Homo sapiens: one gene and its partner. The protein of the gene in region 1 purifies or fractionates together with the protein of each later gene. This does not show direct contact. Each region holds a gene or a part of one and is shown on either strand. Other genes may lie near its edges.

What was found. The genes of interacting proteins can lie anywhere in the genome.
Region 2: the proteins of DLGAP2 (region 1) and USO1 purify together in Homo sapiens (affinity purification with mass spectrometry, with the first as the bait; one large-scale study listed by BioGRID). This does not show direct contact.

What each region holds. Positions count from the first base shown.
Region 1 is NC_000008.11:1,670,788-1,676,092, forward strand, and holds part of DLGAP2 (disks large-associated protein 2), read left to right. Parts: intron 1-5,027; exon of another isoform or gene 5,028-5,305.
Region 2 is NC_000004.12:75,800,051-75,804,688, reverse strand, and holds part of USO1 (general vesicular transport factor p115), read right to left. Parts: intron 4,339-4,638; coding exon 4,220-4,338; intron 4,072-4,219; coding exon 3,890-4,071; intron 3,611-3,889; coding exon 3,489-3,610; intron 556-3,488; coding exon 417-555; intron 1-416. UniProt on the Homo sapiens protein: General vesicular transport factor required for intercisternal transport in the Golgi stack; it is required for transcytotic fusion and/or subsequent binding of the vesicles to the target membrane.

The DNA.
Region 1 (5,305 bases):
ATGTAGTTGGAGCAGCTCCAGTGTCAGGATAAGGAAAACAGCCAAAGAATTGAAGCCACTGCAGGAGTAAAGGGGAGGAAAAGAAGGAATCGAGCAGATGAAAGACGGGTTCCTTCTTTCAGGGAGGCGTCAGGAGGGGAGCTGCAGACGGCAGCCTTGCCAGGGCAGGAGGTGACAGGCTGGGACAAGAGTGAGCAGGCTGTGGACAGGTGGCCACGTCCCTGCCAGGCACCATTTAATCCTTACAATAACCCTGTGTGCTGGTTGTTAATTGTGCCCAGACTATGGATGGGAAAACTGAGGCTCAGGGAGGGTCAGTGACTTGCCTAAGGGCTCACGGCCAAGGCCATGAGTGAAGGCAGCGGCCGAGACTGGAGCCTGCACTCCACTCCACCCCTCTCTGCTCTGCTTCTCAAAGAGGAGAAAATCCCAGAATGATTCCGTGCCCTCAGGAGCCTGCCCTGGTTCTGTTCCTGTTCTGGGACACAGGGCAGGTGTCACGCTGTTCTGCAGCTCATAGACAAAGCTGGCTAGCCCGTGTTCCACCAGCATTCAATGGGACTGGCTTCCGGGACCTTTGGGCACAGTTTTGTCTGAGTGCAGATAGCAGGAGAATCTGTGTTCTGCGAATGTCATTCCTACAAATGAACAGCGTCCACGTCACTGAACACATCTTCTGTGGAGCTCACGCCCTCTGTGAGTCACTGGCTCATGGAGAGACAGCTCCAGGAGGGTCCTGTCCCGGGGTGGGGGGTCCTGTCCCACAATGCAACTCCCTTGTTCACAGTGCATTGCATGACCTTTTACTATCAGGGTTTGAATTCAGGATTCTCATTATAATTACTGGGCTACGTCTAACGTGATCCCTAATGAGTGAGGGTCCTCAGCTCACACCTCCTATGGCCCCCGTCCTCCTTCCCTGCCCAGCTTAGAGCAGAAGCCAGCGGCAAGTCCCCTGTTCCTCAGATGTCTGGCCCCGGCCACCTGAGTCTGGCCCTTACAGCAGGACTCACAGACAGGTCTCATCACAGCTCCAGATTTGCAGGCCAGATGCCCGTAGGAGAGAATGGGCTCCAGCCTTGGCACTCATAGGCCAGTCCTAGGATAAGGAGGAGAGCTTGTGGGCATGGCTGAGCTACCTCGGAGACGTCCTCTGACCCGGTCTGGCCTGACCTCGCTTTTCTTCATTCCAATTGGACCATTTGTGTATTCACTTTCGTTTTTATCCTTTGCGGTTTGTCTCTCCTGCTAAGTTTTCCATTCTCTTTTGTGTGCATGTGTGTGTTTGGGGAACTCTGGGAAATGTTTACAGCTCCCAGATACTGCGGTTAGGAGGGACGGAGGCCTGGTCTAACATTCAGGGTCCTTCTGTCCCTGGTGCCTTGTGAATCCCACCTTTATAAATGAGATCAGTTTTTTTGTTGTTGTTTTTTATTTTTAATTTTTTTTTTTTTTTTGAGATGGAGTCTCACTCTGTTGCCCAGGCTGAAGTGCGTGGCACGATCTCAGGTCACTGCAGCCTCCGCCTCCACCTCCTGAGTTCAAATGATTCTCCTGCCTCAGCCTCCCGAGCAGCTGGGATTACAGACATGTGCCACCACGCCTAATTTTTGTATTTTTAGTAGAGATGGGGTTTCACCATGTTAGCCAGGCTGCTCTCAAACTCCTGACCTCAGGTGATCCACCTGTCTCAGCCTCCCCAAGTGCTGGGATTACAGGCATGAGCCTCCATGCCCAGCCAAGGAGATCAGTTTCTATTCTGTGATCTCACCAGGTTGTGAGAAGGCAGGGGCAGCCTGGAAAAGACTCTGCGGCTGTCCATTCTGAATGTCCTGCCTGTGATAAAAGTGTCTGCCTGATTCTCCAGGCACACAGGCAGCTGCTCTTCCTCATGGCTGCCCCAGAGCTCCAAGCCTCACAGGCAGCTGCTCTTCCTCATGGCTGCCCCAGAGCTCAAAGCCTCACAGGCAGGGCCGGCCACTCACCTGTAGCTCTGGGAGGCAGAGCACGTCTCAGAGGGAAATAAACAGGAGTTTGCATCAGATTCAGGGCACCTGCCCTGCTATGTGTGAGGTGTTGAAGGAAGAGCGGAAAATGAGCTTGTTGGGAGAGCAAAGATTACAGATTGGCACCCTGGCCCAGTATTACTAGTGAGCGGTTCCTGCTGCCAGCCCCGCCCACTTTCATTTTCTCAGCAGCCCTACAGAAGCTGGGCTCAGAGGAGGCTGGTTGGCTTTGACGCCGCTGCTAGCCTGGGACTGCATGGGAGGTGGGACAGTGATTTTGCTCATTCATCTTTTTTTCTTGCACCCATATATTTTTCAAAACTTTAAGAGATGAGGGCTTGCTGTGTTGCCCAGGCTGGAGTGCAGTGGTGCAATCAATCACAGCTCACTCCAGCCTCAAACTCGTGGGCTCAAGTGATCCTACCCCCTCAGCCTTGCAGAGCACTGGGATTATAGATGTGAGCCAGTGTGCTCCCACTGCAATTCTAGTCAGAATTTCCTTTGGAAAAGACTCTTGAGTTACCTTTCCATTGTATAAAATAATTTATTTTCTTTGTCCCAGACTTGCTTTTCTGTCTCACATGAAGCCTCTCTATGCCCAGGATTTCTGAAATTGATAAATACTTAGCTCCTCCTGGCCAAGTATGATTTTACCATGTCCCCTTCAGACTTTACCATCCAGCAATGGAGAACTTCATTTTACTTAGAAAGATTTCATAAAAGACAGCCAGGGTAAAATCTGCACAGTTCATCATATGCGTGTGCCTTTAATGTAATATACATACCACTATTCACGTGACCGTCCTTAAAGCTGGGATGAGAGAACAGGGAATTTGCATTTGCTGTGGACGAACCTACTTGAGTCAGGCCTCAGGCTGAGAGTTTTACATCAGTTAACTGAGGCATTGGGTGTCCCCTCTTTGAAACAAGGAAGCAAAGATTCAACAAAATTTAAAAGAGTTTCCTAAGAGTTGCATGGCCAGCAAGTAGCAGAATCTGACCAGCTCCAAAAACTGTATTTTTCAAATTCACTATAAAAAATAACAAAAATATATTAGAGGAAATTTGGAGACAGAGGAAGGAAGGAAAACTTCCTTTTACTTTTGTTATATTTTTCTTTTTCATGGTACACAAACATGCCTGTGACTGCGAGTGTCTCTATGCTTGTGCATGCCCCTGGTCATTGTTGTCCATGGCACCTGTCAACCTGTGTTCTTTAAAGTCTGTATTATAAGCATTCTTGAGGTTATCTTTAGAACCATCTTTATTTTTTAGAGACAGGGTCTCTCTCACTTTATTGCCCAGGATGTAGTACAGTGGTGCAATCACAGCTAACTGCAGCCTCAGTGTCCTGGGCTCAAGTGATCCTCCTGCCTCAGCCTCCCGAGTAGCTTGTCCCACAGGTGCTACCACTCAGCTAATTTCTTTTTTTGTAGAGATGGGGTCTTGCCATGTTGCCTAGGCTGGTCTCTAACGCCTAGGCTCAAGTGATCCTCCTGCCACAGCCTCCCAAAGTGCTGGGATTACAGGCATGAGCCACCATGCCCAGCTCCATTGTTTTCACTGCTGTGTAGTATTCCGTGTCACAAGTAAATCATGACTTACTGCACATTCCTATCCCACTGTATCACCCTCATTCTCCCCAGGTGCTACTTTATAAATAATGCTGCAATGAACACCTCACACACTGGTCAGAATTTAAGGTCCTTTGTTTAGGCTGGATTCCTAGAAATAGAATAAGTGAGAGAGACAAATATTCTCCACATTTTTATGATAAAAACGAGTGTTCCTTTTACAAAATATCTTTAAAAGTATTCATTTATTTCACTCATATCAGATTTGGCAATATCTACCAAAATTATAAAGTGCAAATACCTCTGACCCAGACCTCCCGTCTGGTGAATATATTCAGAGAAGTTTTCACACAAGTACAGACATGTATTTATATAGCAGCATCATTTATAATGGCAGAAAACTAGAAATAACCAAATTTCCCCTGCACTGAAGGCTCATTAAATGCACTAGGCTATACTCATAAAATGGAATCCTTTGCACTTAAAACACGAGGCAGCTCCATATGTACAGACATGGAATTTTAAATGTATTAATTGTATTACAATCCTTTGCGTAAAATAACACTGATCATGTTTATGTCGAGCAAGGTAAGGTTTAATAAAGTCGTGACCCACTTAACACTAGAAACGGGAATGGTAAATTCTGACAGGAAGGCCAGGATCTTCACTCAAGAATGTTCTTCCTCCTGTAGCCCGTCTCACCCAGCTATCAGAACACGCATCCCAGTCTAGGGTCAGCTTCTGCAAACACGCATCCCAGTCTCGGGACCGCTTCTGCGCCTGTCTTCAGAATTACACCCGGTGAAAGTGGACGTCTCTGTCCGTTCCCCTGGATCCACGGCGGCGGCCGAGAGCTCCAGGGTTTTCTCGCGCTCTGTCTTCTGTGCGGCACCCGGCTCTGGGGTCAGAGAGATCCCGGCAAGAGCCCTAGCCCTGACCCCAACCAGGGCGCGCTCCTGAGCAAGTCACCCCCCTCCTCTGATCCGCCAGCTCTCTCCTGGGGCTGGAAACATCCTTGGGGTTATTGTGTGGAGTACACGTGATAACGCTGGAACCTCAGCCTAGTGCCTGGCGCAGGGTACGCACCAAATAAGTCTTCGCTGTTACCATCAGTACCTCTCTTAGCCACAAATCTGAGCCAGTCCTCGTTGACACAGGCTTAACCTTAGGATAGTCACAAAGGGCAACTCAAATGTTAACGTGCAGCTCCTCTCTCTTGCCTCACAGGGGACAGGGTCAGAAATATTTCATGCTTTGCACCTTTTCCTTGTAGTGATCAGTAATATTTTTAAGAAGGGAGAGATTTTATAACTTAGCTATGACACTTCAGAGAGGGCTCAAAAGTCCTTTTGATACAATAGGTAATACTTTTCTGGAAAGAGGAATGACTGAGTGCCTGGAATCATATCAATGGCTTAACTAACCTTTGGTTTCACAGTTTTCCTACTTGGTTTGGTTTTGTTTTTTTTTTTTTAGAGAACGTACTGTACTAGAATTCCCTTGTGGGATAACTTCACATAGCTGATGATCATTGCAAGGCTTGTTGGGTTTGTGGGGACTTTTTGGCAAATACAGCCACAATCAGAATTCTCTGTGGAATACATGATTTCTGTTCTGATCTGACGTCACCCTGCTGGCCATCCTCTTAGCAGACGTGAGACAGCTCTATGGAGATGAAGGTGGAGAGTTTGCCTCTGTTTCTGATCAGTGCTGAAATTCCTTTCT
Region 2 (4,638 bases), on another chromosome or scaffold:
AAAGATTACAGCGGTCATTCTTAATCAGCTATACATTAGAATCACCTGGTGGGCTTATACTAGTTACTGATCCCTGGACCTAATCCCAGATTTATTAAATCAGAAACACTATTGTGGTATCAGCATTGGTATTTTTTTTTAAAAAAGCATCTCAGGAGATTCTAATATGCAGCCAGGGTTGAGAATCAATGGGCCAGATAAACAGGTAGCAAGAAGCTTGGACTTCAATCTCTAAAGGTCCAGTCTTAACTGCTCTTAACTATCATGCTATTTTGCTTTAAACTCCGATTTACATTTTTGTCACCATGATTAAGGTTAGAAAAATACTAGTCCACAGAAAGAATCTTTTACTTTGTCTAGCTCTTGAGGAAAGAATGACCTGAGTGCTATCATAGTGATGGCTTAGCTATGCTTACCTAGCTGTATTTTAAGAAGATTATACTGGTCTTTGTGCTGCTGGATCTGTGATACTTGCTGTGTGACTGCCGTCTGGAGCTGTTCATTTTGACATTTTAATGTAGAAACCTGCTGCCTTAATTCCTCAAGTTGGAGATCCTGTGAAACAAAACATAATTCATGTGTTTTAAAGTCATACTCGTTAGCATTAAGAAGGTGAACACATTTTAAAAATTAGAGGTCATTTTGGGACAGTATGCTAAAGTGCTTAACACTTCCAAAATCGTTCAGTAATTAAGCAACTTGGTGTGTTAATATATCCATCAAGGCCAATTAACATGCAGCAGAACTACAAGATTTCAAAGAAGGCTCCATTAATAAACATCATGGCATAGCCTGCAATTATAGTGGGAAATAAAATGAAAAAACTCCATTTTATGGTCATAAAACCATTTAAAAATTTACATCAAACTATTTAAGAAATTTAGTATATGTATGTATACATATGCTTCTATATTATTTTTAATATTAAAAGCCAATGAGAAAATAAATATAGGAAATTGAAAAAAGAGCTTCCAACTTTTACCATCATAATAAAACTATAGTTGGAATTTGATGTATTTTTTTTCTTTTTTTTTTTTTTGAGACGGAGTTTCGCTCTTATCGCCCAGGCTGGAGTGCAGTGGTGCAATCCAGCTCACTGCAACCTCTGCCTCCAAGGTTCAAGCAATTCTCCTGCGTCAGCCTCCTGAGTAGCTGGGATTACAGGCGCCCGCTGCCATGCCCAGCTAATGTTTTTGTATTTTTAGTAGAGATGGGGTTTCACCATGTTGGCCAGGCTGGTCTCAAACTCCTGACCTCAGGTGATCCACCGGTCTCAGCCTCCCAAAGTGCTGGGATTACAGGCGTGAGCCACCGTGCCCGGCCAGAATTTTATGTATTTCTTTATTTTCTTCTAATTTTTTCCCAATCCATGGTTTAAAATTTGTCACAATAGGTATATATATATAATTATGTAGCCTTTAATTTACTTAACATTCTATCATAATTTCCCCATATTGCTACATAGTTTTCAAACCATAATTTTTAATCCTATCTAATTAAGTAGATGCAATACAATTTATATTCAATGTTTTTGATGCTAAGGTTGCTTTCCATTTTTTTTCTTTTCTTTCTTTCTTTTTTTCTTGGGTTTTTTTTTTTTTGAGACAGAGTTTCGCTCTTGTTGCCCAGGCTGGAGTGCAATGGTGCGATCTCGGCTCACTGTAACCTCCGCCTCCCAGGTTGTTCAAGCGATTCTCCTACCTCATCCTCCTGAGTAGCTGGGATTATAGGCATGTGCCACCATCCCCAGCTAATTTTTTGTATTTTTAGTAGAGACAGGGTTTCTCCATGTTGGTCAGATTGGTCTCGAACTCCCGACCTCAGGTAATCTGCCCACCTTGGCCTCCCAAAGTGCTGGGATTACAGGCATGAGGCACCGTGCTCAGCCACTGCACTCCAGCCTGGGCAACAAGAGCGAAACTGTCTCAAAAAAAAAAAAAAAAAAAAAAAAAGAAAAGAAAAAGAAAAATGGAAAGCAACCTCAGCATCAAAAACACTGAATATAAATTGTATTGCATCTACTTAATATTGCTTTCCATTTTTCAAAGTGACAAATTTCATTACATTATATATTTTAGTCCATATAATTGTTTTCCTGAATTTTGGAGAATTCCCTTAGGATGAATTATCAAATGTCATTCAAAGGATATAAACATTTTATAGTTCTAGATGCTTGTGGACTAATGCCAAATAGCATTTTAAATGGTAAGAATATTTAAAATGAACATTTCTAAGGAAGTCATTAGAGTAATTGTGTCAATCACTCTTTTCTTTTGCCAAATCAACTGTATTTGCAGCCCCAAGTATAGACTCTATATCACATTACAACTATTTGTTTTTTTCACTGTTCCAAAGATATTATTACATTTTAGCAACTGGAAATGGCTCCATCTTTGTACCCAGATATAGATGAAAAATCCTAATAACCATAGGTAGTTTGATGATTCAAATTTTACCATTCTAAGATTATAATTTATTGATTGATTTACTTTTAAACTGAAAAGCTTAGAATGAATGCTAAATATACCACAATATTTTCATTCTTTCTTAAAATTTTAATCTCAGTAGGCTGGGCGCGCTGGCTTATGCCTATAATCCCAGCATTTCGGAAGGCTGAGGCAGGGAAGGGAAGGGATCACCCGAGGTCAGGAGATCAACACCAGCCAACATGGTGAAACCTCATCTCTACTAAAAATATAAAAATTAGGCAGCGTGGTGGCACACGCCTATAATCCCAGCTACTTGCGAGGCTGAGGCAAGAGAATTGCTTGAACCTGGGAGGCGGAGGTTGCAGTGAGCCGAGACTGCGCCACTGCACTCCAGCCTGGGAAACAAGAGCAAGACTCTGTCTAAACAAAAAACAAACTAATCTCAGTAATGTAGATTGTGAGGAAGAAAATAAGATATAAACAGTTGTCAATTTAAAGGGTTCTATCTATGCTTTTACTTGCCACACCTGCCATAAACTGTGCACAATTAGTAGACAGGTGTGGAGAGCAGTAGAGGGAAGGGGATGAATCTGTCCCACAGGGTCTGCCACTATTGTATTTTTTTATGACACTGGAATTTTAACAACATTAATAACCTCATTTTTCAGCACTTTCTAGAATTCCAATCAAGGTAAATATCATAAGAAATTAAATGAGAGTAAAAGTCAAGAAAACATTTTGAAGGAATATAATGAAGGTTTAGGGTACTCAACACAATGCAAGTAATGAAAGTTCACTGGTATCCTGGAAAGAAAATGTCAACTGATGATTCCGCAATTGTAGTTTCATCTTTATCCACTCATCATTATCTAATAAATCAGCTGCATGGTGCTTAGCACATATTAAGCACTCTGTTTGTTGAATACTCAGATGCTTTGAAAAATGATGGGTTTTGCTTTCTATATCCTCTTTCATTTGAAATGTCAGAAAAAAAGGCTCCCTTAAAGCAGAAAGTGCCTATTGGTAATCAGAGGGTATATACAGTTCATTAGTACTTACCTGCTCTCGAATCATATTTTTGTAGTGAGTCACAATATTGTCATGCTGTTCTAATGTTTTTTTCACCTCTTCTTCTTTTTTATCTTCTTCACTGGACTTATAAATAGCCTTAGTTATAACACCTATAAAAGGAAGCTTATTTAAAATTTGTTTTAAATGTTTTAAATACTATTTTACTACTAAGACTTAGTAAAAACATATAACCTAACTCCATGATAGGTAAGAAATAATCTTTTCAATCCTACTGAAAGCCAAATGTCCTTCAATGGGCTACAGATCAAGAGCTAGGAAGAAAATATACCTTTAGAGTTACCATATAACCTGTATGCATCCAGAATATACATGTACAATATAAATATAATTACTTTCCATCAAATATCAATATAAATCTTCAGTCTTACCTTCAAGTTCTTTTACCAGCTTCGTAAACTCATGATCAAATATCATGTATTCTGGACTGGGAAAGTTTGGCTGGGGTTTCTGAGATGCTCTGGAATACAACTCATGTTTGCTAATAAATCCTAGTTTCTCTATGAAATTCTCTTTGCCAATCCTCTTCTCAATCAGTTGTTTTAGCTTCTCTCTACGGAGATAAGCATATTGAGATGCTTTAAAAAAAATAAAATCAAAACAAAACATAAAAGCTTGGTCTACATAATGCTTTGGCAAAAAAAAAAAAAAAGCATCATTATCTCTTGATGCCATTAGAAAACCATCTTCCCCTTACTTACTTCATGTAGCTCTCAAGTGAGTTATCATTGAAATAAATCGAAATGCCCAACAAAAGGGCACATAAGCCTTGGACCAACTGCTCTTCTTCTCCAAGATTTTCTGCAATTTGTCCTGTAAGCTGAAATCTTTGTTAAGGAGGCTAAGGATTGAAAATATCTAGTACATTTTGCAATTTGAATTTGACATACATTAATACTTCACATAAGAGTTCCCATAAGAAATTCCATATATAGGCTAGGTGTGGTGGCTCATGCCTGTAATCTCAGCACTTTGGGAGGCCAAGGTGGGTGGATCACCTGAGGTCAGGAGTTTGAGACCAGCCTGGCCAACATGTCTCTACTAAAAATACAAAATTAGCCGGGTTGTGGTTGCGCACACCTGTAATCCTAGCTACTCAGGAGGCTGAGTGAGGCAGGAG